4 linked regions of the Homo sapiens genome follow. The protein of the gene in region 1 binds, or shares a complex with, the protein of each later gene. Each region holds a gene or a part of one and is shown on either strand. Other genes may lie near its edges. The genes, in order: LSM2, SNRNP40, PPIH and PRPF3.

Evidence for each region.
Region 2: LSM2 (region 1) and SNRNP40 share a complex: the UniProt entries of both Homo sapiens proteins name them as parts of the U4/U6-U5 tri-snRNP complex.
Region 3: LSM2 (region 1) and PPIH share a complex: the UniProt entries of both Homo sapiens proteins name them as parts of the U4/U6-U5 tri-snRNP complex.
Region 4: LSM2 (region 1) and PRPF3 share a complex: the UniProt entries of both Homo sapiens proteins name them as parts of the precatalytic spliceosome.

Annotation. Positions count from the first base shown.
Region 1 is NC_000006.12:31,803,945-31,811,834, reverse strand, and holds the start of LSM2 (U6 snRNA-associated Sm-like protein LSm2), read left to right. Parts: upstream 1-4,868; 5' UTR 4,869-5,077; coding exon 5,078-5,080; intron 5,081-5,692; coding exon 5,693-5,760; intron 5,761-7,890. Other genes in the region: HSPA1L (heat shock 70 kDa protein 1-like), read left to right, coding at 1-1,788. UniProt on the Homo sapiens protein: Plays a role in pre-mRNA splicing as component of the U4/U6-U5 tri-snRNP complex that is involved in spliceosome assembly, and as component of the precatalytic spliceosome (spliceosome B complex).
Region 2 is NC_000001.11:31,265,783-31,272,804, forward strand, and holds part of SNRNP40 (U5 small nuclear ribonucleoprotein 40 kDa protein), read right to left. Parts: intron 5,718-7,022; coding exon 5,597-5,717; intron 3,459-5,596; coding exon 3,376-3,458; intron 2,151-3,375; coding exon 2,089-2,150; intron 1-2,088. UniProt on the Homo sapiens protein: Required for pre-mRNA splicing as component of the activated spliceosome. Component of the U5 small nuclear ribonucleoprotein (snRNP) complex and the U4/U6-U5 tri-snRNP complex, building blocks of the spliceosome.
Region 3 is NC_000001.11:42,668,407-42,675,428, reverse strand, and holds part of PPIH (peptidyl-prolyl cis-trans isomerase H), read right to left. Parts: intron 142-7,022; exon of another isoform or gene 1-141. UniProt on the Homo sapiens protein: PPIase that catalyzes the cis-trans isomerization of proline imidic peptide bonds in oligopeptides and may therefore assist protein folding. Participates in pre-mRNA splicing.
Region 4 is NC_000001.11:150,316,969-150,324,542, reverse strand, and holds the start of PRPF3 (U4/U6 small nuclear ribonucleoprotein Prp3), read right to left. Parts: upstream 3,011-7,574; 5' UTR 2,951-3,010; exon of another isoform or gene 2,405-2,950; intron 1-2,404. UniProt on the Homo sapiens protein: Plays a role in pre-mRNA splicing as component of the U4/U6-U5 tri-snRNP complex that is involved in spliceosome assembly, and as component of the precatalytic spliceosome (spliceosome B complex).

The sequences.
Region 1 (7,890 bases):
ACAGACACCGAGCGGCTCATTGGGGATGCGGCCAAGAACCAGGTAGCAATGAATCCCCAGAACACTGTTTTTGATGCTAAACGTCTGATCGGCAGGAAATTTAATGATCCTGTTGTACAAGCAGATATGAAACTTTGGCCTTTTCAAGTGATTAATGAAGGAGGCAAGCCCAAAGTCCTTGTGTCCTACAAAGGGGAGAATAAAGCTTTCTACCCTGAGGAAATCTCTTCGATGGTATTGACTAAGTTGAAGGAGACTGCTGAGGCCTTTTTGGGCCACCCTGTCACCAATGCAGTGATTACCGTGCCAGCCTATTTCAATGACTCTCAACGTCAGGCTACTAAGGATGCAGGTGTGATTGCTGGACTTAATGTGCTAAGAATCATCAATGAGCCCACGGCTGCTGCCATTGCCTATGGTTTAGATAAAGGAGGTCAAGGAGAACGACATGTCCTGATTTTTGATCTGGGTGGAGGCACATTTGATGTGTCAATTCTGACCATAGATGATGGGATTTTTGAGGTAAAGGCCACTGCTGGGGACACTCACCTGGGTGGGGAGGACTTTGACAACAGGCTTGTGAGCCACTTCGTGGAGGAGTTCAAGAGGAAACACAAAAAGGACATCAGCCAGAACAAGCGAGCCGTGAGGCGGCTGCGCACCGCCTGCGAGAGGGCCAAGAGGACCCTGTCGTCCAGCACCCAGGCCAACCTAGAAATTGATTCACTTTATGAAGGCATTGACTTCTATACATCCATCACCAGAGCTCGATTTGAAGAGTTGTGTGCAGACCTGTTTAGGGGTACCCTGGAGCCTGTAGAAAAAGCGCTTCGGGATGCCAAGATGGATAAGGCTAAAATCCATGACATTGTTTTAGTAGGGGGCTCCACCCGCATCCCCAAGGTGCAGCGGCTGCTTCAGGACTACTTCAATGGACGTGATCTCAACAAGAGCATCAACCCTGATGAGGCCGTAGCATATGGGGCTGCGGTACAAGCAGCCATCCTGATGGGGGACAAGTCTGAGAAGGTACAGGACCTGCTGCTGCTGGACGTGGCTCCCCTGTCCCTGGGGCTGGAGACGGCTGGGGGCGTGATGACTGCCCTGATAAAGCGCAACTCCACCATCCCCACCAAGCAGACACAGATTTTCACCACCTACTCTGACAACCAACCCGGGGTGCTGATCCAGGTGTATGAGGGCGAGAGGGCCATGACAAAGGACAACAACCTGCTGGGGCGGTTTGACCTGACTGGAATCCCTCCAGCACCCAGGGGAGTTCCTCAGATCGAGGTGACGTTTGACATTGATGCCAATGGTATTCTCAATGTCACAGCCACGGACAAGAGCACCGGCAAGGTGAACAAGATCACCATCACCAATGACAAGGGCCGCCTGAGCAAGGAGGAGATTGAGCGCATGGTTCTGGATGCTGAGAAATATAAAGCTGAAGATGAGGTCCAGAGGGAGAAAATTGCTGCAAAGAATGCCTTAGAATCCTATGCTTTTAACATGAAGAGTGTTGTGAGTGATGAAGGTTTGAAGGGCAAGATTAGTGAGTCTGATAAAAATAAAATATTGGATAAATGCAACGAGCTCCTTTCGTGGCTGGAGGTCAATCAACTGGCAGAGAAAGATGAGTTTGATCATAAGAGAAAGGAATTGGAGCAGATGTGTAACCCTATCATCACAAAACTCTACCAAGGAGGATGCACTGGGCCTGCCTGCGGAACAGGGTATGTGCCTGGAAGGCCTGCCACAGGCCCCACAATTGAAGAAGTAGATTAATTCTTTTTAGAACTGAAGCATCCTAGGATGCCTCTACATGTATTTCATTCCCCTCATCTTCAAACATCATTATTATTCTTGACCAGACCTGAATCTAAGTTACCATCCCTTGGAAATTCTGGAGAAGGAGTCTCATGCACCACCTATCACACTCCCTCACATCCTGTTTCTGACTTTGGAATGGACTCAGGAAAACTAGGCCCCTCTTTAAACCGTGTGATGTATTTGAATGTCTGTTATTTCCAGCCACCCTAACATTCTTCTTCCTGTGTGGATGCTTATTTGTCAATCAGTAAATTTGTTCGTAAAGAAAATTACTTCTGGTATTTAGGCTGTGAATGTACCTTGAAGGGGAGAGTTCATGGAGAGAGCATGTGTTCTCTGATTGTGAGGTCACTGTGAATGATTAAATTGGTAAGGGTAAAGTATTTGAATTTTCATGAACTCATTTTGTGTGTGTGTGTGTGTGTGTGTGTGTGTGTGTGTGTGTTTTGAGAGACAGTCTCGCCCTGTCACCCAGGCTGGAGTGCAGTGGCACAATCTCAGCTTACTGCAAGCTCTGCCTCCTGGGTTCACGCCATTCTCCTGCCTCAGCCTCCCGAGTAGCTGGGACTGCAGGTGCCCCCCACCATGCCCGGCTAATTTTTTGTATTGTTTTAGTAGAGACGGGGTTTCACTGTGTTAGCCAGGATGGTCTCGATCTCCTGACCTCGTGATCCGCCCGCCTCGGCCTCCCAAAGTGCTGGGATTACAGGCGTGAGCCACCGTGCCCGGCCCATGAACTCATTGTTTCAATCAGCCACATAATTTTTGATCCTCAGACACCTTTAGCACAGATGGAACAGATGGCAAACTATAACTGCTTTTAATCAGTTACAAGCTGGTTTTGGAGTTTAGGACTCAACTGGGGGTGGAGGGACAAATCCTGCTTGATGTCCTGATGTCACTTATAGGTAAGGTCCAGGAGATTCAGCATCTATGCACTCACAGAGTTCATTGTTTACATCCATTACATGGAGAAAATATTTCTTTTCTTTTTTTTTTTTTTTGGAAACAGTTTCGCTCTTGTCGCCCAAGCTGGAGTGCAATGGCACGATCTCGGCTCACTGCAAACTTTGCCTCCCAGATTCAAGCGATTCTCCTGCCTCAGCCTCATGAGTAGCTGGGATTACAGGCGCTCACCACCATGCCCGGCTAATGTTTGTGTTTTTAGTAGAGACGGGATTTCACCATGTTGACCAGGCTGTTCTGAACTCCTGACCTCAGGTGATCCACCCACCTCAGCCTCCCAAAGTGCTGGAATTATAGGCGTGAGCCACCGTGCCCAGCCCCAGAAAATATTTCTATAACAAACTCTTGACAAATAAGTATGTCTATGCAAGATGACAAATACAAGTTTTATGAAGTCTCAGTCCATGAAAAAATATTTTTACCAGCTGGGCACAGTGGCTCACGCCTGTAATCCCAGCACTTTGGGAGGCCGAGGCGGGCGGATCATGAGGTCAAGAGATTGAGACCATCCTGCCCAACATGGTGAAACCCCGTCTCTACTAAAAATACAAAAATTAGCTGAGGACGGTGATGCGTGCCTGTAGTCCCAGCTACTCAGGAGGGTGAGGCAGAGGAATCGCTTGAACCCGGGACGTGGAGGTTGCAGTGAGCTGAGATCGTGGCACCACACTCCAGCCTGGTGATAGAGCGAGACTCCATCTCAAAAACATTTTTTTCTTTTACCTGTGTCCTAATACATATTTATAAAAACCTGGGGGATATGAGTTAGAATAATATGTAACTGCATTTCTGTCTGTTTGTGTTTGAAACATTTAACAGTGAAATGTTAGACTGGGTTATTTGTATCTGTGAGCCACAGTCTCTTTAGTTTTACACAGTCCTTTACAGGACAGTCTTGGCAAAAGTGTGTAAGAAATGCGGAGATTGAGGTTGGCTCCTTTGGAGAAATGTATTTATTGGTAACCTTTGATAAAATCAAAATTTGTGCTCCAGCTCCTCCTTATCTCTGGGACTGCTCAACGTTGTTTGTTTATAATTTTCTTTTTTCTAGAGAGAGTCTCGCTCTGTCACCCAGGCTGGAATGCAGTGGGGAGATTGTAGCTCACTGTAACTCTTGGGTTCAAATGATCCTCCTGCCTCAGCCTCCCCAAATGCTGGGATTTACAGGCCTCAACATTTTTTGTTTTTTGGGATGGAGTTTTGCTCTTGTTGCCCAGGCTGGAGTGCAATGGCAAGATCTCCACTCACTGCAACCTATGCCTCCTGGATTTACAGGCGCGTGCCACCACACCCGGCTAATTTTTGGGTTTTTAGTAGAGACAGAATTTCGCCATGTTGACCAGGCTGGTCTCGAACTCCTGACCTCAGGCGATCCACTTGCCTTGGCCGCCCAAAGTGCTGGGATTACAGGTGTGAGCCACTGCTCCCGGTCATTTTTTTTTTTTTTTTTTTTGAGACGGAGTCTTGCTCTGTCGCCCAGGCTGCAGTGCAGTGGCGCGATCTCGGTTCACTGCAACCTCCGCCTCCCAGGTTCAAGCGATTCTCTTCCCTCAGCCTCCCGAGTAGCTGGTATTACAGGAGCCTGCGACCACGCCTAATTTTTTTTGTATTTTTAGTGAAGATGGGGTTTCACCATGTTGGCTAGACTGGTCTCGAACTCCTGACCTCACACAATCCACCCACCTAGGCCTCCCAGAGTGCTGGGATTAAAGGCTTGAGCCACGGCCCTCGGCCTTTTTTTCTTTTTATCAGCTGAATTTAAGATTCAAAACATTTTTTAATTTTATTTTTTAAATTTTATGTTTTTACTTTAACAAATATAGAAAAGTGCACACTTCATAATCTTAACAAACTCCCCACAATTCTCGATAGGAAGTGTGTGTAGGGCACAAACACATCACGCTGTAGATGGCAGGATTCTGGAAAAGAACAAAATCCTTTGAGCTCAGGCGCTGAGTCCCGCCACCCGTCTGGCAGCCCAGGCTAGGGTCCGCGCCTGCGCAATGGGAGCCGGCCGGCCAGGGAGGAAGTCGGAATGAAGGAAACCCCGCCCCTTTCCCGGCTTCCTCCTCCCCTCTACTCTACCCAGCTTGCGCTCCCCAGCCGCAAGTCGGCCGCGCTTTGCCCGTCAGCGCTTGGAGCTTTCTGCGTCGCTTCCCGCTGCGCCTGCGCGGTCCCGCCTCGCCCCACGCGCGGGCTCGCGCTTCGGTTTCCCCAGACCTGCTCGCAGCACCCTGCTGTCTTCCCGGTCCGGCCCGCTGCCCGCGGCGCCAGCACCATGGTGGGTACCGTGACGTCAAAAGGGGGCGCCCTCGGGGACCTCGCATGGTTGGGGCGGGGGATCTGGCCTTTGTACCCCTAGGCTGGAGTTAGGTCCGGAGTTTTTATCTTCATCTTTAGTACTGTACTGTTTCTCAGGTTCATTGAGGAGGCACTGAGAACAAATGGGATATTTTTTCCATGATGAGGGAAAAAACCCCAACCCTGAGAGAGATTCAGTGAGGATAGCGGGAGACGGAAAAGTTAGACCTCAGAGCACTTCTCTGCCAGGCAAGCTTCGGCAGGGTGCGGGTGGGATATTTTCTACAATTCATTGAAAGGAGTGGGCAGGTACCCGAGAAAGGTGGTCGACTGAGAGAGCACAGTGGGGAGGCCGACGTATGCAGGGCAGAGTCTCTCTGGGACTTTAAGTGATGGGCTCAGTGCAGTGTGCAGAATAATTTGGGCTCCAGCCTTTCAGCTCTGTCAACCAATTATTCTTTCCTGTGAAATTTTGAGAACTGTCAGGGATGCAGTGGGGTTCACAATACCAGTATTTGGTAATACTGTCAAAGGACACTCCTCCCTACCATGCTCCTTCCCACATGATGGTTTTCCCCCTCTCTCCCAATAGCTCTTCTATTCTTTTTTCAAGTCCCTTGTGGGCAAGGATGTGGTCGTGGAACTAAAGAATGACCTGAGGTAGGTACCTGTTCCAACAAGTCTGTTGGGGGTGGGTGTGCCCAGGGCCCTGGAACCTCTTTAATTTGAGAAATATTTCAGGGCTAGGCGAGGTGGAAGATGTACAGAAGAAATAAATGGATAGGGTGCAGTGGCTCAAGCCTGTAATCCCAGCACTTTGGGAGGCTGAGGAAGGAGGAAAGCTTGAGCCCAGGAGTTTGAGGCTGCAGTGAGCAGTGATTACTCCATTGCACTCTAGCCCAGGCAATAGAGCAAGACCCCATCTCTAAGAAAAATTTTAAAATTTAGCAATAAATAAATGCCTTGTGCCTTAAATTTACAGATAAGCTTAGAGATTGTATCGTGTATTGGAAAACAATACAAAGCAATATATAGTTTAAAGAGTAAATACAGGTCAGGCGCAGTGGCTCACGGGCTGGACGTGTGGCTCATGCCTGTAATCCCAGCACTTTGGGAGGCCAAGGTGGGCGAATCACGAGGTCAGGAGTTCAAGACCAGCCCGGTCAAGATGGTGAAACCCTGTCTCTACTAAAAATACAAAAATTAGCCGGGCACGGTGGCTGGTGCCTGTAATCCCAGCTACTCGGGAGGGTGAGGCAGGAGAATCGCTTGAACCTGGGCGGCAGAGGTTGCAGTGAGCTGAGATCACACTGCTGCACTCCAGCTGGGTGACAGAGTGAGATTCTGTCTCAAAAAAAAAAAAAAGTAAGTACTAGGCTGGCCATGGTGGCTCACACCTGTAATCTCAGCACTTTGGGAGGCTGAGGCAGGAGGATCACTTGAGTCCAGGATGTCGAGACTAGTCTGGGCAACATAGTGATGAGACCTCTATTTCTATAAAAAATTAGCCAGGTGTAGTGTACATGCCTGTAGTCTCAGCTATTCGGGAGGCTGAGGTGGGAGGATCACTTGAACCCAGGAGGTCAAGGCTGCAGTGAGCCATGATTGTATCACTTTACTCCAGCCTGGTTGACAGAGGAAGACTCTGTCTCAAAAAAAGAACAGGCCAGGCCGGGCGCGGTGGCTCACGCCTGTAATCCCAGCACTTTGGGAGGCCGAGGCAGGCGGATCACAAGGTCAGGAGATTGAGATCATCCTGTTTAACATGGTGAAACCCTGTCTCTGCTAAAAATACAAAAAATTAGCCAGGCGTGGTGGCATGCTCCTGTAGTTCCAGCTACTTGGGAGTCTGAGGCAGGAGAATGGCGTGAACCTGGGAGGCGGAACTTGCAGTGAGCCAAGATGGTGCCACCGCACTCCAGCCTGGGTGACAGAGCAAGACTCCGTCTCAAAAAAAAAAAAAAAAAAAAAGAAAAAAAAGAACAGGCCATAGGCCGGGCACGATGGCTCATGCCTGTAATCCCAGCACTTTGGGAGGCTGAGGCGGGTGGATCACGAGGTCAAGAGAGCGAGAACAGCCTGGCCAACATGGTGAAACCATGTAGTGTATCTAATACCTAGCATAGGCCAGTTATATGATAGGTGCTTAAAGAAAGAAAAATAATATCCGAAGACGTATTGACTAACCACTATTCTGAATACATTTATTGATTGATTTCTCAAACACTGCTAAGTAATATATACTATTGCTGTTTTACACGAGGAAACTGAGGCTTAGATCAGCTATACCACTTGTTCAAGTCTACAAAACTAGTAAGTGACACAACTGAAATATGATTCTGTCCAGCTTTTTTTCTTTCTTTTTTTTTTTTTTTGAGATGGAGTTTCAGTCTGTCACCTAGGCTGGACTGCAATGGCGTAATCTCGGCTCACTGCAGCCTCTGCCTCCTGGGTTCAAGCAATTCTCTGCCTCAGCCTCCCTAGTAGCTGTGATTACAAGTGCCCACCACCATGCCCGGCTAAATTTTGTATTTTTAGTAGAGATGGAGTTTCACCATCTAGGCCAGGCTGGTCTTGAACTCTCGACCTTGTGATCCACCTGCCTCAGCCTCTCAAAGTGTTGGGATTACAGGCGTGAGCCACTGCGCCTAGTCCTACTTTCTTTCTTAAAATAATATTTATTTATTTAAAAATTAGAGACAGTGCCTCACTTTGTTGCTCAGGCTGGTTTCAAATTCTTTGAGTTCAAGCAGTCCTCTTGCTTCAGCTTCCCAAAGTGCTGGGGTTACG
Region 2 (7,022 bases), on another chromosome or scaffold:
TGAGCAGAGATTGCACCACTGCACTCCAGCCTGGGCGACAGAGTGAGACTACATCTCAAAAACAAACAAAAATTTAATTACAAAAGATACACTCTTTCTGCTGAAAATTATGTAAAAATACTTAGGATAGTTCTTACTATATCAGAATATGAGACACCTTAGTCTGTTTCTTGAAGTCTTCTCTAGCAACTTGATAACTTAAAATTCTTTAGATTTCCCTCTTCTAGGCAGCTCTCTAAACCACTTGCACTCAAATGATCAATGTGACACTTTCACCTGGACCCTTTCTTTTTCCTCCAGAAAATACCTGAATACTTGTCCATTTTTCTTGGCATTAAACTTGTCAGGAAAAAAAAAAGTAGACTCTGGAATTTAAATATGTTCAGAATTATTCATTAATAGAAAGGTATGGGACAGATCACAGTGCAGCTTCTGTGTGGCAGCGTTAGGGCCCCAAATAGAGGAAAACCCTGGAATATGCTGAAAGCCCTGGCTAGCCCAAGAAAGTCTTCCTATTTATAGGATGGTGCTTGTTTCAGTAGGATTGAAAGAGAAACTCTAAAGGGGAGGATAGGATTAAGCTAAAAAGGGTCAAGACACTGCCCAATGAGAGCTAAACACAGGATTTGCTGTCAGAGGGTCTTATTGTTCTTTACCAGGCCTCATTTGCAGCCCATCAGACTCGACACCTGGACATCCCTATTCAACCTCTGATTCTCCCCCAAGCACAGGTTACCACAGACATGCCAAATACAACAGCATCTGACAGAAGAATTCTCTCCCTTCTGTTTCTCATTCAGCACATAATGCCTGAGCCAGTTTAGATTCGTATTTCATAAAGCCTTAGCCGATTAATTCAGCATGGGGTGGAAAATACCTAGTTCACATTTTGTTACACCCTGCACCTAGCAATCATTGCACTTCCCACTAACCCAGACACAGCTCTGAATCATCTCCAACACAGGCAGGCATTACCAATAGCTGAGCTGCTATGCAGGGTAAAATTGGACTGCCATTCTTCAGCTAGGAATTCATTCATGTAATATAAACTAATTGGTTAGAAAAGCTCAAGCACTGACAACAGTGCCATGGGTTCACAGAAATGACTAAGATTCATTCCCTAATCTCTAGGAGAAAATAACTTAGTGGAGGTACCTCACTTTGTCTGTCTGATTGTAAGATGTAATAAATGCTACCAAAGTTTAGATGTATGAAATGGGATTACAGCACAAAGAACAATTAGTTATCTCCAAGAGGTAATAGAGAGAGGGGACCAGGGACAGTTTATGGATGTAACATAGAGGTGGTTACTAGAGAGATATAGGAGTTTAGATAATGAAGAGGGAATGTGAGAGAGAACCTAGAGGTGAGAACGCAAAAGGAGGTTAGAATATGAAAATTCCATGTGCGCAGCATTGTGGTGATGGTGGGGGAGGTGGGTATTTAATATGTGTTCAAATGAACTGAAGCATGGAATAAGAAATGTGGTGAGGGAAACTAGAGACAGATTATGAGACTGAATTTTATTCTGATGGCAAAGGGAACCCAACAGAATCAAACAAATTGTTGATCCTCTAGGTCTAAAATGTCTCCAAAGTGGGTAGAAATGATCTGTTTGTCGAACACGGTTTTGAAACCCTTCATACTGCACAGAGCTTCATCTTCAAGCACAGTCATAACTCTATGTCTGCTCTAGCTCCATATCCACGCTTTATGTATAAAACACAAGAAGACATCCTGCATAGCTATATCATTGTTTTTTTTTTGGAGATGGAGTCTCGCTCTTGCTGCCCGGGCTGGAGCAGTGCAACGGCGTGATCTCGGCTCACCGCAACCTCTGCCTCCCAGGTTCAAGTCATTCTCTTGCCTAAGCCTCCTGAGTAGCTGGGATTACAGGCATGTGCCGCCACGCCCGGCTAATTTTGTATTTTTAGTAGGGATGGGGTTTCTCCATGTTGGTCAGGCTGGTCTCGAACTGACCTCAGGTGATCTGCCCGCCTCGGCCTCCCAAAGTGCTGGGATTGCAGGCACGAGCCACCGCATCCGGCCAGCTACATCATTCTTTACTTTGCACCCACTAATCCTTACCTGTCGGCTGAGCCAGCTGCTATTTTGCTTCCATCAGGTGACCAAGAACATCTCAGAAGGTTCTATGATAAACAAGAATCCACTGAATAGTAATATACCAAACTCCTCTTTGCAAGGCTACCGAATCACTAAGAGGCTTTAAATTTCCTAACTAGAGTTTTAATTACTCTTCTCAGGAAGATGGTCTGTAATTATCTTATATTCTATGGCCCAAAACAGCATACTTTGTTATTTTACACCATATAAAAACTGTAGAAAATACTTAACTTACAGTTAATTAGATTGAACCTGGCAACAAAATTTTGTTCTACTTATAAATGGAGGCTCCCTTTGCTCCATTTATCTTGATACTCATTTTTTTTCCTATTTATCTTGAAGAAAAATACACGCAAACCCAACAAATAATAAATTTTGGGTTTTTTTTTTTTTTGAGACAGGGTCTCGCTCTCTTGTCCAAGCTGGAGTACAGTGGCACAATCATAGCTCACTGTAGTTTTGACCTCCTGGGCCCAAGTGATCCTCCCACTTCAGCCTCCCAAGCAGCTGAGACTGCAGGCACATGCCACCACACCCAGATTTTTTATCTTTTGTAGAGACAGGGTCTTACTATGTTGCCCTGGCTGGTCTCTAACTCCTGGCCTCCCACCTTGGCTTCCCAAAGTGCTGGGATTACAGCTGTGAGCCACCATGCCAGGTCTAAAAAACAAAATTTGATTTATACAGTGAAACTGAATCTCAATGAGCTCTCAAAAAAAAAAATCTCTATTAACAAATTCTCTGAGGGGAAAAGCTTCTTTCAATAGAGCTGACCTTGAAATTTGAGGCTTTGAAAAAAATTTTCTCTCTCAGAACTTGGGCCGTGGTAGTTACTGAGGGAAGAGATGTATTCTTAGGGTTCTAACACACATGGTCACGGGATGCGGAGGCAGGTAGGGAGACCATCCAGGTTACAGCTATGGGAGCTTGGGTTCCATATGGAAAACTGATTTAGGAGGGTAAAATTCCCAAGTAATTAAAAAGGCCAGGAGTCTCTTGTTGAGGCTGGTGTCAAGTCAGATGCCCTCAGTTTGAGGGCTGGCTCCATTCCTTTTGGGCTATATGACTGGCTTCTCCCCAGTCACTATTATTTCTATCCGTTTTATTTTTGGCAACAAGTTTTAATTAAGAGCAGTGTTATTGGAATGAAGTCCATTCTTAGCAGAGCTACTGCTCTCTATCCTTAGTACCACCTTAAATGTTTCTCTGAAGTAAATGAACAGTAAAACTCCTCTGCCATGCAGAACTCACCTTTTCAAAGTTGTGCACATTTCCTTGAAATATCTTTACACATCTCTCTTTGGGGGCAAATGGCCGGACATCCCAGACACGAACTGCAAAACAAATCCAAATAAACAAACCAACCAAAACAACTATCGGCCAGAGGCCTCCTGGGCACCCAGCTGAAATTAGTATCATGTCAATCAATGGCAGATGCTGTTTCCTCGGTGGGCAAAGTCCAACTTGACATACTGCTACCTGTTAAGGCTCTTTTCTTTTTCAAGCAGGAAAACACATCTAAATCCCAATAACTGGGGCTAGCTGAGGGGGCAGGAAGGAAAAATGTCACACACAATGTTGGTAATTTGCAACAGAATGCAGTTGGGTGTGATACTAATTTCAAAAAGATATTTTGCAAGATTTCTCTGCCAGCTTAGTCACATCCAGCAAAGCTTCAATGTGACAAACTAAATACCAGGAACTACTGTGACAATGAACTTATAAAAGCCAAACTTACATCGCCCTTTCCTAATTTCCCTCATATGGGCACCTGATAGTCTAAGACTGGACAAGGTCAGATATATATAAAATATATAAAAGGTCAAATAAATCAAAAAAGCACTGTACCATACCAAAAATCAGAAAAAGTAAACATTGATTCTATCTCTGTTACATATTTGGGTGATGTCAGGTAAACAGTGAGATTGTTTGTGTCTTGGTTTTTCTGTTCTGTAAAATGAAGAGAAAATTATCTGTCTTCTTTTTAAAATAATATTATTGACTGATATGATTGAGATGGAGTTTCGCTCTTGTTGCCTAGCCTGGAGTGCAGTGGCGTGATCTCGGCTCACTGCAACCTCCGCCTCCCAGATTCAAGTGATTCTCCTGCCTCAGCCTCCCAAGTAGCTGGGATTACAGGTGCCCACCACCACACCTGGCTAATTTTTGTATTTTTAGTAGAGATGGGGTTTCACCACATTGGCCAGGCTGGTCTCAAACTCCTGACCTCAGGTGATCTACCCTGCCCAGCCAATAACACTATTTTAAAGATCCAATGAGATGATATATGTGCAAAGGTTCTAAAATTTGTAGGCAACAAACAAAAATAAAGAATTTGTAATTGTATTATGCAGCCACAAGAAATTATTCTATTATTTTTTCCTTATTTTAGTATCAATCTAGGAAACCTCATTGTTCCTCATAAAGAACGCTAGAATTAGCTAGGCATGGTACTTGGGAGGCTTGCCTGGGCCCAGGAGTTTGAGACCAGCCTGGGCAACACAGCAAGATCCTGTCTTATCAAAAAAATTAAGGAAAAAATATTTTTTTAATGCTAGATTAAATGTGTATAAACATCTATTGTAAGCAGTAGCTATAGCCGTTGTAACTGAAGCTATACCTATAGTGGAATTTCAGTGATGTCATTTTATTTGAGTATGAAAAAAGTATTATCAATCCTTGGAGTCAGACAGGCATAAAAAGGCAAAGCTATGCGTGAAAGTTTGCCATTGAGAATATAGTTAAAAGGTAAAGATGTCCATTAATTCAACAAATATTTATTAAGTACCCAATGAATGTCAGGTATTGTTTTTGTTACAAAATGTCAGGGAATACATTTTAGTTCCTGACAAGCCTATAATTTTGTATACCAGGGCCATTTCCAAACTCCCTCAACATTAAGCATATAATCCAGCAAGTCACCTTACTTTTTTTCTGTAGTAACCCATCCTCCCACCCTACAACTCAAAAACAAGTAAAGAGAAAGAGCAAGAGTGTGTTCGTGTAAATCCAGAATGTTTTAATGAAGACCTCTTCCCACACCAATGCTTTCAGAGTGGGGAGGGAAGACAGACTGGCAGGAAAGAGCAGAAGAGATCATCCAAGCTTGGTGCTCTCTGAAAACGCACAAGAACTGCCTTGAATAGACTTCTAGATTCACATCTTTTTCATTAAACTCATCACCTAGAGTTTCTAATATCCTGTTGGATACACAGCATACCAGAGCTGAGATGGGTCTTAAAGGTAAAGTCCAATCTTCTTATCAATGTAGAAACTGATGCCTAGAGAGAAGAAATGCTGTGTGCAAAGTTGTTCAGGGACAAGACAGAGATCTGAGACTACAGTCCTAGATTCTTGACTATCTCACCTAAAGCTTTCCCCATTACAACACATTCTAATCGTCTGATGGAATCTGTGAGCAATCTTTGACTTTTTCCTTGGATCCTGGGAGAGATTTCCTTTCCAAAGTTACCTGTATTGTCCATTGCATTGGACAAAAGATAAGAGCCTTCAGAACTTAAACTCAGGCCAGTCACTGAATCTGCATGGCCTCTCATGGTGTAGGTTAGCTTGTTCTGGCGCAGGTCCCAGACCTGCAAAAACAGAAAGGTGCCCCCAGAAATCAAATTAATAAAAGCAGAGAAAGAGAATGACACAAGAGACAAGAGTCAATTGCCCAGAGACACTGATATTACTCTACTATAAAACACAGGATTTCTGTCAAAGAGAAAAACACCTTTTTTTAATTTTCATTTTTTTTTTGAGACAGCGTCTCACTCTGTTGCCCAGTGCAGTGGCACTATCATGGCTCGCTGTAGCCTTGACTTCCCGGGCTCAGGTGATTCTCCCATCTAAGCCTCCCCAGTAGCTGGGACTACAGGAGCATGCTACTATACCCAGCTAATTTTTCTGAAGAGACAGGTTTCACCATGTTGCCCAGGCTAGTCTTGAACTCCCGAGCTCAAGCAATCCTCCCACCTCATCCTCTCAGTATTTGGATTAACACGCATGAGCCACTATGCCTGGCCAATCTCTGTCTTTCTAAAAAGGTAGCTCAGGCTACCACGTTTGACTAGATAAATATAAACGAATGCATATCAAATGTTAAGATAAAGTTTTACACACAAAAAAATAGAATTCAGAAAGGTTATTTTCAAATCATAGCAAAGAAAAACTATTATAGAAAAAAACTAAAAATGGCTATGATTCTTAGCCATTAAAAATTATTATAAATACATAAAACGAACATGTCATTTAAAAAAGGCATTATGATTACATGTTTGTGTAACAATATGAAAAATACAGATGCTTAAAATTTTTCTTTTAATGTAACAATATGTGACAATAAATGTATATATATGTACATGTATGGATATGTACATGCACATACACTATGGAAAAGCACATTTATTAAAATAAAAATAAATTACAGGTTCACTATTGCTTGTATAGGAAACGTAAGATACAGAAAATAACCTAAACGTCAAGCAGGAAAAATAGGTGGTTTATTAAATTATGGTTCATAAGCACATTGCAAAACTGAATTCTCATACAGGAGATAGCATGACAGAGTAGAAAGAGTGGTGACTTAGGGTAAGAATAAACTGTTCCTTGCCACTTAGAGTTATGTGTCATTGGGTCACTAATTCTTTCTGGGCCTGTTTCCTGGTCTGTAAGATTAGGGATAACAATAGCTACTTCTTACGGCTGTTGTAAGGATTATAAGAATGCTTAGCATATGCCGGGCACAAGACAGGTCCTCAATAATGTGTAGCTATTGTTAAGCAGTTCCTAAAAATAACTCAGAAGACCAAATGTAAAAATATTTACATAATAAGCTATTAAGCAAAAAAGGAAAATACAAAACAGTATTTATCTTTACACAGACTACAGCTATG
Region 3 (7,022 bases), on another chromosome or scaffold:
TAAATGCCACAGTGGAGAGATGAACCAAGTGCTGTGGGAGCACCCACTGTCTGGGCTTAGACCTGGAAGAGGAGGTGGAGGGATCAGCAATGGATTCACACCTGATGTTAGCCACAGCTGTGGGCAGGCTCCTGGGAAGTGCTGGGAGGATTTAGGATTAGTTAACACTACATATAAACAGTATGTATTTCTATTACAAGATACATGTTCAAGGTAGAAAATTCAAGCTTAAATAAGGCAACTGAAAAGTCTCTTTGCTATCTCTACTCTGCAGAAGTATTATCCACAGTCTGCTATATATCACTGCAGAGATTCCTGAAAGTCATTCAAAATAAACAGTAACATGCTTACATAAATTACTACATCTTGACTGTCACTTAACTTACCTTAGAAATCTTGCCAACACATCCAGATCTACCTCTTTATTTTGTTAAGGCTGTATAGTATTCCACTGAAGAGAATGGAACCTCTACGTGTGTAAGACTTGGCTGCAATGCAAGCAGCTTTGCCTTTGTACTGGACTGGAATGGACTGGAGCCAGACATTCTCTCCACTCCTGGCCTTTTCAGCTGGCAGAGCTTCTGAGTTTCAGGACAGGGAACATACAGTGTCACATGCCCAGCAGGCACATAAATATTTGCTGCCAAATCTCCAGTGTTCCCCAGACCCATATTTTCATGTAAAACCTCTTTTCTCTTGCCTGGACTACTACTGCAGTAGACTCCTCACTGGCCTCCAGCCCATCCTCCACAATGCTGCTAGAATCATCTTCTGAACATGAAAATTCATCTACAGTATTCTGCTGAAAATCCTTAAGTGGTTCATATTGGCCTGATTCTTTTTTGGAGGGTCAGTGCCCCTTTTGAGAATCTCAGGAGCACAGTGGACTCCTTCCCCAAAAGGGAAAAATTACTTCATGCCTGAAAGTCAGCCTCTGCCCTCAGAATAACATATGAACTGCTAAACTTGGCACTGGCTTTCACTACTGGCCCTGGCCTCTCTCCAACCTTCTCACCATTTGCTTTTCATATCTTCCTGCTTCAGTCATATTGAATTATTTGCAGCTTCCTCTACACTTCCTGCTGTTTCCTGCCTTTGTGACTTTGCATAGGCTGTTCCCTCTGCCTGGAATGCCCTGCCCAGTTTTAGCCACCTGACAAGTTATATTCTTTCTTGTACTAAACTGAAGCATCATCTCTTCTGTAGTCTACTCAACCACTCTGGGAAGATCCGGGCATTTATGCTTTCCTCACCTTGTTCTAAAACCTCCAATACAGGGCTTTATTGTACTGTAATTGTCAGTTCTCCCAAGAGACTGAGTTCCTTGAAGGATGGAACTGACTTTTCAAATCTGTAGCCTCATATGCAGCATGGGAACTATCTTAATTCATCAGCGCTTAGTTGTGGAATGAATAGAGGACCAGCCCAACTGCCACCAACACATATTTCCTAATCTTCCCCTACGGGAATGTCTCGCATCTATAGGTAATTCTAGAATGAAACACAGTGTTTCCTAAACCTTAGTCATTCAAATAGCATCTTCACAACTGTTACAATATCTATCATCCACAGGTACAATTTATTTTTTAAGCTAATCACTATTTGAACTTCAATATTGCCTCACTATAAGCTGTAATAACTGTAAAATGATGTATTGTGCTAATTCCGTATTTTTTCCTAAGATCCAAATATTAAAATAAAAGACAGTCATCCCACCACTAACTAAAGTAGTGTTTCCCACACTTCTCTATTAAGAAGCATGTGAGATACTTGTTACAAACATAACATCCTGGTCCCACCCCAAAGCCACTCAATCAAATACTCCAGGGAAGGGATCTAGGAATTCGTAGGTTTAACGAGTGCCCCAAAATGATTATTACCTGTTGGAGAATCTAGGCAACAATGAATTAAGGAAAGCTCTCTACCATTTGGTACTGGTACCAGGTTTGAGGATCACAGGGAAGAGGGTAAGCATATCAGACTAGCAGAGCTGCCAGAACTCGGGCTTTCAAAAGAGAGGTGCCACCCTCTCCCATGTCCATGTAAGTAGCAAACAACCCATTCAGACTACAGCAGGAGAATCCTGAGTGTAGAGGTTCATTTATGCTATACATAACCAAATTCATCATAAAAAGTTTTCCAAGGGCTGGGCACGGTGGTTCATGCCTGTAATTCCAGCACTTTGGGAGGCTGAGGTGGGAAGATCGCTTGAAGCCAGGAGTTTGAGACCGGCCTGGACAACATGGTGAAACCCCATCTCTAAAAAGTTAGCTGGGTGTGGTGCTGCACGCCTATAATCCCACCTACTAAGGAGGCTGAGGTGGGAGGAACACTTGAGCCAGGGAGGTCGAGGCTGCAGTGAGCTGTGACTGCGCCACTGCACTCCAGCCTGGGTGACAGAGTAAGACCCTGTCTAAAAAAAAAAACTCTCCCAGAACTCACTGAGATAAAACCAAGGTTTCTATAACTAAAGTTGTACAGACCAGGCATGGTGGCTCACGCCTGTAATCCCAGTACTTTGGGAAGTCAAGGCGGGCAGATCACATGAGATCAGGAGTTTGAGACGAGCCTGGCTAACTTGGTGAAACCCTGTCTCTACTAAAAATACAAAAAAATTAGCCAGACGTGGTGGAGCATGCCTGTGATCCCTGCTATTCGGGAGGCTGAGGCATGAGAATCGCTTGAACCTGGGAGGCGGAGGTTGCAGTGAGCTGAGATCGTGCCACTGCACTCCAGCCTGGGCAACGGAGTGAGATTCTGTCTTAAAAAAAAAAAAAATTGTACACAAAACTTCATTTTCACTAAAACCAAAGTCAGAACCTAGGAAGGCAAAACACAAAGGTTCTGGAAAGAAGTGCTCCATAGGGAGGTAGAATTGATCAAGTGACCCGTCTTCTATCTCCTTCTTAGCTGTTTCACTGCATATGTCCAGTGCCTGGGCACAAGGCCTCAAATGCAGGATTAGGTGATACCTTGATGTGAATGCAATGGATTCCTGCTGGACTAGTGCCACCAAGAGAGTACTTCCTCTTGGTCTTTTTTTTTTTGGAATATGGCAAGTTCTCAATTAAAAGATAGACTCTTATCCCCTATTGACTTGCCTCACAGTCTGCATCAGCATCACCTGAGAGCTGATTAGAAATGCAAAATCTCAGTCCCCATCCAAACCCACTGAGTCAGAACCACTATTTTATAACAAATCTCCTGGAGATCCGTATGAACGTTAAAGTATAAGAAATACTGCCCGGCCAGGCATGGTGGCTTATGCCTGTAATCCCAGCACTTTGGGAGTCCGAGGCGGATGGATCATGAGGTCAGGAGTTTGAGACCAGCCTGGCCAAGATGGTGAAACCCTGTCTCTACTAAAAAATACAAAAATTAGCTGGGTGCGGTGGTGGGCACCTGTAATCCCAGCTACTCGGGAGGCTGAGGCAGGAGAATTGCTTGAACCTGGGAGGCAGAGTCTGCAGTGAGCCGAGATCGCGCCACTGCACTCTAGCCTGGGCGACAGAGCAAGACTCCGTCTCGAAAAAAAAAAAAAAAGAAAGAAAGAAATACTGCCCAATAGGGCTTAAAAATACCACTTCCCTTCCCTCCACACCCCTGCTCCATGGGAAATTCATCTCCTCTTTCATTAATTTTTCTTAAATCACATTATTCAGAAACCCAAAATGGGGTGCCCATCTGTAGAACCCCTTTACATTAGACTGCCACCCAGATTTCCTAACACCTTAAAACCTATGAGGGATTTTTGGTAAAGTGAAATGCGATAATTCAAGTAAAGTTCTTAGCTCATTATCCGGGCACAGGAAGAATTCATTGAAGGATAACTGCTTTAATTATAGTGCCCTTAAGTATTAGCTACGAGATTCAGTTCTAAGCAAGCCAGGGCGAGTAGATTGAGAAGCTTACATTTAAAAGAGTTCACTGTCCAGTACAGTAGCCACTAGCTACAACTGGCTCTTTACATTTATTATTTTTTTATTTACTTATTTATTTTTGAGACAGGGTCTCGCTCTGTCGCCCAGGCTAGAGTGCAATGGCACAATCTTGGCTCACTGAAACCTCTGCCTCTCGGGTTCAAGAGATTCTCGTGCCTTTGTCTCTGGAGTAGCTGGGATTACAGGCGTGTGTCATCACGCCCGGCTAATTTTTGTAATTTTAGTAGAGATGGGTTTTACCATGTCGGCAAGGCTGGTCTCAAACTCCTGGCCTCAAGCGATCCACCTGCTTCGGCCTCCCAAAGTGCTGGGATTACAGGTGTGAGCCACCACATCCAGCCTAATTTAAATTTAATAAACTACAGCTTAGTTCTGTCAATAAAAAAAAAATAGGCTGGGAATGTTTGCTCACGCCTATAATCCCAGCACTTTGGGAGGCCAAGATGAGCAGATTACCTGAGCTTAGGAGTTCAAGACCAGCATGGCTAACACGATGAAACCCCGTCTCTACTAAAAATACAAAAAATAGCCAGGCATGGCAGCGTGCGCCTGTAATCCCAGCTACTCAGGAGGCTGAGGCAGGAGAATTGCTTGAACCCGGGAGGTAGAGGTTGCAGTGAGCCAAGACGGCGCCACTGTGCTCCAGCCTGGGCGACAGAGCGAGACTCCATCTCAAAAAAATAAAAAATAAATAAAAAATAAAAAGTTAACAGTTTAGTCCCTCAGTTGCACCAGCCACATTTTAAGTGTTCCGTTGTCACATGGGGCTGGTAGCAACCATACTGGACCTCCCAGATCTAGAATCTTTCCATCATCACAGCCTATGGACAGTCCTGGTCTAGCGGGCCTGTGGAATGTACAATGGCCACCTGAGGAATGCGTTCTGCTTGGGTTGCAGGCTGAGAAGAAGGGCTTTCTTGGAAGCAAAAGTTCATATAACTTTTGCTAACAGTGGGGGAGAGCGGGGAGGGTTGATGATCCCCACCCTCAGAAATAAAACCTCAACAAGGACTTCCAGTAACTTTATGTAAAAGACTCAAAAAGATACAGAAAAGAGGCCCCAACATTAAGAATTTCTAAACTTTATTCTTTTTGTTATCGTTTGTCCTCTGGTAGTGATCAGTGGTCAGTCTTTGAAAAGAAAGGACCTATGAACTCAACTTTAGTTACAGCAAAGAAATGAGTAGGAGACGGAGGGAATGGCCAGCAGCCATTGAAGAGGGAGAGCAGGCTGGGCCCAAGGGGGACCCAGTATTGGCAGAAAGGAAAGCTCAGGGTGTCAAGTGGGCCTGAGAAGGGATCATCTGGCTGAACAAGAGAGGTCCACATGTAGCTCTCAGCACACACTTGTGCATTCCAGCCTCAGCATTTGCTCACACGAGTTCCCCGCCTAAAATGCCTGACATTCTCCCTCTCTACTTAACTCATGTAATAAATTTTTACTGAATGCCTGTAAGTGCCAGCTTTCTGAACAGAGTTGGTCACAGATAAAGGTGTGTTGTAGAGTCATTAAAATGGTCAGGTATTTGACTGGATCTCCATTTGGAAAAAAAGACAAGAAAAAGTCCTATCTTAACACTATACAGAAAAATTAATTATAGATGATTTTATAAATGTACAAATAAGACTTTAAAAATACTAGAAAAATGATCTTAGCTCCACCATATAAAAAGAAATACTAGAAAAAACACAGAAAACATTGTGATCTGAGGTAGTAAAGACCTTAAATGAGACAAAACTGAAAAGCAGTGAAAGACTGATAATTTGGACTTCATCAAAATTTAGAACTTCTCTTTAACAAAGAATATCACCAAACTTAAGCAACACAATACTAATTTTTTTCTTAAAATATATTCTGAAGAAAACAATTACAACATATAAAATTAAGAACTAATGCTCAGTTGGGGGCAGTGGCTCACGCCTGTAATCCTAGCACTTTAGGAGGCCAAGGTGGGCAGACCACTTGAGGTGGGGACCAGCCTGGCCAACATGATGAAACCCCATCTCTACCAAGAAATATAAAAATTAGCTGGGCGTGGTGGCATGCACCTGTAGTCCTAGCTACTTATAGCTATTGTATAAGGTAATCTTATACAATATTTTTAATACGTTTGTGCATGAAACAGATTTTTGACTATGATCCATCACATGAAGTCAGGTGTGGAATTTTCCACTTCTAATGTCATGTTAGTGCTCAAAAAGCTTCATATTTTGGAGCATTTGGGATTTCGGATTAGGGATGCTCAGCCTGCACTGCAGTTTCGGTTTTTCTTTTCCTTTTTTTTTTTTTTTTGATGTCATCCAGGCTGGAGTACAGTGGTGTGATTATAGCTCACTGCAGCCTCAAACTCCTGGGCTCAAGTAATCCTCCCACCTCAGCCTCCTGAGTAGCTGGGACTACAGGCATGCACCACCACACCTGGCTAATTTTTTTTTTTTTTGGAAAGACGGGATCTCACCAGGTTGCCCAGGCTGGTCTCGAACTCCTGAGCTCAAGCTATCTGCCCTCCTTGGCCTCCCAAAGTGCTGGGATTACAGGAGTGAGCCACCTCCTGCCGGGCTGTTTTCATTTTTTAATACAAGGTGGTTTTACATGAACTAAGAAGGAAAAGTTTTCAAGACATATTTTTTAGAACATGAAAAATATAGTATGATTTCATTTGGGAAAAAGAAAACCTCCCAAAATTAGATGGGCAAGGCAAAGGCCCTGATGGACATACATCAAACTAATAAGGAAGTGACCTTTGGAAAGGGGAGTGGAATTGCAGGTGGGTATTGTCAAGAGGGGCTTTCACTTTATCTGTTTGGTGTGAAAGTTTTCACAATGAGAGTGTATTATGTTACTTGTGTAAACCAAATGAAATGAAATATGGGAACCTTGATTGGATCACCTTTTTTTAAGCTACAAAAGTTACTTTTGGGACAATTGGGGAGGTTTGAAAATGTACTATATATTAGATAATATTGTGGTTACGTAGGATGTTCTTATTTTTAGGAGTTCCTTGCTGAAATACTTAGGGGTAAAGTGTCAAGAAGTCTGCAACTTTCAAATGGGAAAGAGAAGAAGAAAGGGTAAAGGAA
Region 4 (7,574 bases), on another chromosome or scaffold:
CAGGGAAATGGTTAGTACATCAGGAATGCATTCCCCAGCCCTATTCTCAATCCCTAGACAAGTTTTTCCAACTCATTTGAAGGCAAATATTTTCCCCAAGAACCATATCTCAAAGCAGAAAGAGATCCCATTTGATTTTTAATTCTAACTCTTAAGTTGATCAATGAAATCTGCGGAATAAACAAACTCTGTGAATAAGCTAAGTCTGAGAAATTAGTTCTAGCTTCTTTCTTGATCCTGTCATATCAACAAGGACTTGCAAACCTAGTAACACTAAAACAGAACTAAAAAAGCCCATCCAGAGGCCAGCTTTTCCATTCTTCCTACTTCCAGGCAGGCATTCCCTAACCCAACCCTGACTTATGTAGGATTCCCTTCTTTTAAGGTATGCAAGTAAAAGAGGGTTTATCCAGGTCAGTCATCTTAGATATTAAATTAAATCTCATGATCTTTAAGAATGTTCTGGCCGGGCGCGGTGGCTCACGCCTGTAATCCCAGCACTTTGGGAGGCTGAGGCAGGTGGATCACGAGGTCAGGAGTTCAAGACCAGCCTGGCCAAGATGGTGAAACCCCATCTCTACTAAAAACTACAAAAAAATTTAGCTGGGCATGGTGGCAGGCGCCTGTAATCCCAGCTACTCGGGAGGCTGAGACAAGAGAATCACTTGAACCCAGGCAGCAGAGGTTGCAGTGAGCCAAGATCGCGCCACTGCACTCCAGCCTGGGCAACAGAGTAAGACTCCGTCTCAAAAAAAAAAAAAAAGAATGTTCTGTCACATTTCTCTGTGGTCATATTCATCCCAGTGGGAATTCTGCATACAGGTAATTATCATGTTCAATCTACAGGGTCTCCATCAGCTGACTTGATGATCCTTCAGCTCAGAAAAGAATACCCTCATTTTTATTTTGAGACAGAGTCTCACTCCGTCGCCCAGGCTGGAGTGCAGTGGCGTAATCTTGGTTCACTGCAACCTCCATCTCCTGGGTTCACTTGATTCTCCTGCCTCAGCCTCCCAAGTAGCTGGGACTACAGGCATGCACCACCACGCCTGGCCAATTTCGTAGTTTTAATAAAGACACGGTTTCACCATATCGGCCAGGTAATGCCTTACCTCAAGTGATCTGCCCACCTTGACCTCCGAAAGTTCTGGGATTACAGGCGTGACCCACTGCACCTGTCTCTACTAAAAATACAAAAATTAGCCAGGTGAGGTGGTGGGCACCTGTAATCCCAGCTACTTATGAGGCAGAGGCAGGAAAATCACTTGAACCCAGGAGGCGGAGGTTGCGGTGAGCCAAAATCATGTGCACTCCAGCCTGAGCGACAGAGTGAAACTGTGTCTCCAAAAAAAAAAAAAAAAAAAAAAAAGCCAGGTGCGGTGGCTCACGCCTGTAATCCCAACACTTTGGGAGGCCAAGGCGGGTGGATTATCTGACGTCAGGAGTTCGAGACCAGCCTGGCCAACATGGTGAAACCGCATCCCTATTAAAAATACAAATATTAGCTGGGCGTGGTGACCTGCACCTGTAATCCCAGCTACTCTGGAGGCTGAGACAGGAGAATCCCTTGAACATGGAAGGCGGAGGTTGCAGTGAGCCGAGATCGCACCACTGCACTCCAGCCTGGGCGACAGAGCAAGACTCCGTCCCGGGGAAAAAAAAAAAAGGTGTCTAAATGGGAGTCAATAAATTGACTGACCTCAATTTCCAAGCTCAGCTATTCCCAGCAGTGCCACTTATCAAAGATCTGGGAATCATCTTTCAAGATGTTTTAAGACATCTTTTCTCCAAAAAATCCAGTCTGATTAACTTCTACATTCTTGGTAAGTTTAGCCTCTATACTAGAGTCTATAAGACTTGATGCCAAATAGACTCACTTTTGGTATATCCAAAGGAAGCTAGTAGATTGAAGTGATGAAACTAAGACTGAAAGATTTTCTGCCTCAGTGACAAGTTACGTGAGTAATTCTATGGTGGTTCTATTACCCCACAATGAGTAGACATACAGCGTACCAATTTCTACATATTACACATGTATTGCACAAAAGCGGCATATCCAGATGCCATAGAAAGTGAAAACAAGAGTTCACACAGAAACAGTTGGGACACTGAGCCCCACCATTTACAAGCCCTTGGGCAAGTTAAGTAATTCTTTGGAGCCACAGTTTACCATCTTACAAAATGAGTACTGCCATATTTACATCCTAATTCATTCAATAAATATTTATTGAGTAACTACTAAGTGTCAAGCAATGTACTAGGTGCGGTGGATACATAAAACAGTGAGCAAAACTAACAAGAGTCCTCACCTTAACGGGTCTTATATTCCACTAGAATTGAATGATAGGCTAGAAAGTATAAGCAATTTGAAAGCCCAAAGCAATAAATGAGGTGCCACTGTTACCTCCATAAGATGACGTGCAAACTAAACAGCCAATGGATAAAAAAGTTTCAAACGGTAATTAGCCTTGTCACTAATCAAATGCTCAACAATAACTGCGAGGTGCGGGGGTAGTGGGGGTGCGGAAGGAAAGCGAGGTACAATGATCTCTCCTCTCAATGAGCAGGCAGCAGAATCCAAATCCAGTCTTCAGAAGGAATTCCTTACTCCGTGCTCTTGTTTGCTACAACCTGAGTTTCCCTCTGCAGCCCCCCACTCCCCCGCTAATCTTCATTTTTACTCTCTCCGTCACTCCAACCAGTCTCTTACTCTACCTTGTTCTACCTAAACTCCTCACCCCAGAGCTGGTCTCCCAACCCGGTCTCCTTCCCGCCCCCGCCCTTTTCCTCTCAACAATCTCATTCCAACCTCTTCTCCCACCAAACCAGGTACTCCTTTCACACTCCTTCCCGCTGAACCCTCCCGCTTCGGTCCTCCCCTTGGACTGAGTCCCCGGCCACAGTGGCGCGGACTGGAATTACCCTCTGTGGGCCCGGGGCCACTACTCACCTCACAAACTTCAGCCCCTGAGACGGAGCCCGAACGTTACACCGGAACCGGAAACCTTCTGACCGCCCTACGGCGTGCCGTCGCTACCGCCACCGCCGCCGCCACGCCGCTGTCTCCCAACACGTGACCAAGGAGGGCCGGGCCGCCAATTCGCGCAGCCGTATTTGCCACTTTCTTGGAGGCTGAACGCATGCGTCGCAGAACCGAAAAGTTTCCCTGAGCAATTTCCTTGCTTTCTATTTCCCAGGCTAAACCTATTAGCTAGATTTCTGCCAAGGTTTTTTTTTTAGCTTTTTTTTTGAGACGGAGTCTCGCTCTGTCGCCCAGGTTGGAGTGCAGTGACGCGATCTCGGCTCACTGCGAGCTCCGCCTCCCGGGTTCACGCCATTCTCCTGCCTCAGCCTCCCGAGTAGCTGGGACTACAGGCGCCCGCCACCACGCCCGGCTGATTTTTTGTATTTTTAGTAGAGCCGGGGTTTCACCGTGTTAGCCAGGATGGTCTCGATCTCCTGGCCTCGTGATCCGCCCGCCTCAGCCTTCCAAAGTGCTGGGATTACAGGCGTGAGCCACCGCGCCCGGCCGATTTCTGCCAAGTTAATGTCTTTAACTTCCTGAAGCGGAAATTGGGCTACTTGCTGTTTTCCTCATATGGAGAATAAGTGCGCAAAAGTAAACTTAGGCTAGAATGAAGAGCGAGGCTTCTGCGTTTGTGTTCAAACACAGCCTTTCTGGTAGAAAGTAAACCCTTTCTCCCTAATTTAACAGTGGTGTCAGGCCGGGCGCCGTGGCTCACGCCTGTAATCCCAGCACTTTGGGCTCAATAAATGACAAGTGAGACCTACCAGTATTGTTTTCTCCATTCTATCAATAGGTCTATATATTAACTTCTCTCCAAAATGAGGCTCTAACCTACTGACCCTTTATTTTTTATTTTTATTTTTTATTTTTTGAGACGGAGTCTCGCTCTGTCGTCAGGCTGGAGTGCATTCGGCTCACTGAAACTTCCGCCTCCCGAGTAGATGGGACTACAGGCGCGCGACCACCACGTCCAGCTAACTTTTGTATTTTTAGTAGAGACGGGGTTTCACCATGTTGGCCAGGATGGTCTCCATCTCTTGACCGCGTGATCCGCCCACCTCGGCCTCCCAAAGTGCTGGGATTACAGGGTTGAACCACCGCGCCCGGCCCCTACTGACTCTTTAAATCGATGATTCATAACAACATGTGTGTGGACAAAGATAGTTTGGAAAAAGATTGTCCAGTATTATGACACAATTTCTTATATGAGAAATGGAAAAAATTCCATTATTTTTATATTATAAACTATCCAAACTAAAGTTCCAAAATGTCTTCTTGGTGGTAGGCTGACTAGAAGATGCAGTTGTTCTTCAGGGAGGTTATTCACATTCCCCAGATAGTAGGAGATTTTTGTATCTAAAGATAACAATGTACATACCAAGCCCCACCTTCCCTGATGGGGCAGCACGACATAACAGGATAAAGCCTGGCTCTGAAGGAACAAGTTGGGGGAGTTTGAACCTACTGCTCAACTTATTCACAAATCAGTTTCCCCACCTACAGCTTCTAACACCAATGTCTCACAAAATATTCACTCAAAAAGTCTGTTGAATGGGTTAATGAGTTTCAACATTGCAGGGTTGTTGTAAATTTATTTTGTTTTGGTGCTTCTAACAGTCTGCGTTCAATTCCCTATGGAGAAATGTGTTTCTAGAAACTGGTTTTAGGCCAGGTGTGGTGGCTTACGCCTGTAATCCCAACACTTTGGGAGGTCGAGGCGGGTGGATCACTTGAGGTCAGGAGTTTGAGACCAGTCTGCCGACATGGTGAAACCCCATCCCTACTAAAAAAAATGCAAAAATTAGCTGGGTGTGGTGGTGGGCACCTGTAATCCCAGCTACTCAGGAGGCCGAGGCAGGAGAATTGCTTGAACCCGGGAGGTGGAGGTTGCAGTGAGCCAAGATCGCGCCACTGCACTGCAGCCTGGGCGACAGAGGGAGACTCCATCTCGACAAAACAAAACTGATTTTATTTCCAATTTTTAGAATTGGATACATTTAAACTGTAGCTTTCCGGTTACTAGCTGTGTTTCCTTCAGGTAATTTTTTCTGAGATTGTTTCCTCAATTATAGAATAAGAATCTCTACTTCAAAAAGGTATCGTGAGGATTAAATGTAATGTGTAAGACACAGTGTGGTACTGGCGTAAGAACAGGCAGGTAAACCAACAAAAGAGAATAGAGGGTCGGGCGCGGTGGCTTACGCCTGTAATCCCAGCACTTTGGGAGGCCGAGGTGGGCAGATCACGAGGCCAAGAGATCGAGACCATGCTAGCCAACATGGTGAAACCCCGTCTCTACTAAAAATACAAAAATCAGCTGGGCGTGGTGGCACGCGCCTGTAGTCCCAGCTACTCCGGAGGCTGAGGCAGGAGAATCACTTGAACCCGGGAGGTGGAGGTTGCAGCCAGCCGAGATTGCACCACTGCGTTCCAGCCTGGTGTCAGAACGAGACTCTGTCTCAAAAAAAAAAAAAAAAAAAAGGAAGAATAGAGAGCCCAGAATAAACACTCACATATATGGTCAGCTGTATTTTTTTTCTTTTTCTTTTTTGAGATGGAGTTTCGCTCTCATTGGCCAGGCTGGAGTACAATGGCGCGATCTCGGCTCACCGCAACCTCCGCCTCCCAGGTTCAAGCAATTCTCCTGCCTCAGCCTCTGGAGTAGCTGGGATTACAGGCAAGCGCCACCACGCCAGGCTAATTTTGTATTTTTTTTCTTCTTTGTTTTGAGACGAGTCTCGCTCTGTTGCCCAGGCTGGAGTGCAGTGGCACAGTCTCAGCTCACTGAAACCTCCGCCTCCTGGGTTCAAGCAATTCTTCTGCCTCAGCCTCCTGAGTAGCTGGGACTACAGGTGTGTGCCACCACGCCCGGCTAATTTTTTGTGGTTTTAGTAGAGACGGGGTTTCACCGTGTTAGCCACGATGGTCTAGATCTCCTGACCTCGTGATCTGCCCGCCTCGGCCTCCCAAAGCGCTGGGATTACAGGCGTGAGCCACTGCACCCGGCCTCATTTTGTATTTTTAGTAGAGACGGGGTATCTCCATGTTAGTCAGGCTCGTCTCGAACTCTGGACCTCAGGCGATCTGCCTGCCTCGGCCTCCCAAAGTGCTGGGATTACAGGCATAAGCCACCGTGCTCGACATTTTTTTTTTTAGACGGAATCTCCCTCTGTTGCCCAGGCTGGAGTGCAGTGGCTCAATCTTGGCTCACTGCAACCTCCACCTCCTGGGTTCAACCAATTCTCCTGCCTCAGCCTCCCGAGTAACTGGGACTACAGGCGCATGCCACCATGCCCAGCTAATTTTTTTGTATTTTTATTAGGGGTTTCACCATATTGGCCAGGCTGGTCTCAAACTCTTGACCTCGTGATCTGCCCACCTCAGCCTCCCAAAATGCTGGGATTACAGGCATGAGCCCCTGCACCTGGCCATGGTCAGCTGATTTTTGACAAAGGTGCCAAGGCTATTCAATGTGGAAAGGACAGTCTGTTTAACAAATGATGCTGGGAAAAGCAGATATCCACAAACATAAGAGTTAAATTGGACCCCCTACCTCATACCGTATACAAAAATTAATTCAAAATGGATCTAAGACCTAAATTTAAGAAATATACAAAAACTAGAGGTCGGGCACAGTGGCTCACCCCTATAATTTCAGCATTTTGGGAGGCTGAGGCTGGAGGATGACTTGAGGTCAGGAGTTCAAGACCAGCCTGGCCAACATGGTGACTCAATCCCCGTCTCTTCTGAAAATAGAAAAATTTACCAGGTGTGGTGGCACACTCTTGTAGTCCCAACTACTTGGGAAACTGAGGCAGGAGAATCGCTTGAACCCAGGAGGCAGAGGTTGCAGTGAGCTGGGATCACGCAACTGCACTCCAGCCTGGATGACAGAGGGAGACCCTGTCTCAAATAAGTAGATACATACATAAAAGTAGGGCTGGGCACAGTGGCTCACATCAATAATCCCATGCAACTGCACTCCAGCCTGGATGACAGAAGGAGATTCTATCTCAAATAAATAAATGTAGGGCTGGGCACAGTGGTTCATATCTGTAATCCCAGCACTTTGGGAGGCTGAGGTGGGTGGATCACTTGAGGCCAGGAGCTCTAGACCAGCCTGCCCAACATGGTGAAACCCCATCTCTACTAAAAATACAAAAATTAGCTGGGCATCGTGGTGCATGCCTGTAATCCCAGCTACTCAGGAGGGAGGCACTAGAATCTCTTGAACCTGGGAGGCAGTGGTTGCAGTGACTCAAGATTATCCCACTGCACTCCAGCCTGGGCCACAGAGTGAGACTCTTTTTTTTTTTTTTTTTTTTTTTTCGGAGACACAGTATCGCTCTATCCCCCAGGCTGGAGTGCACTGTTGCGATCTCAGCTCACTGCAACCTCTGCCTCCCAGTTTCAAGCAATTCTCATGCCTCAGCCTCCCGAGTAGCTGGAATTACAGGTGCCCGACATCACGCCCGGCTAATTTGTGTATTTTTAGTAGAGATGGGGTTTCGCCATGTTGGCCAGGCTGGTCTGCAACTCCTGGCCT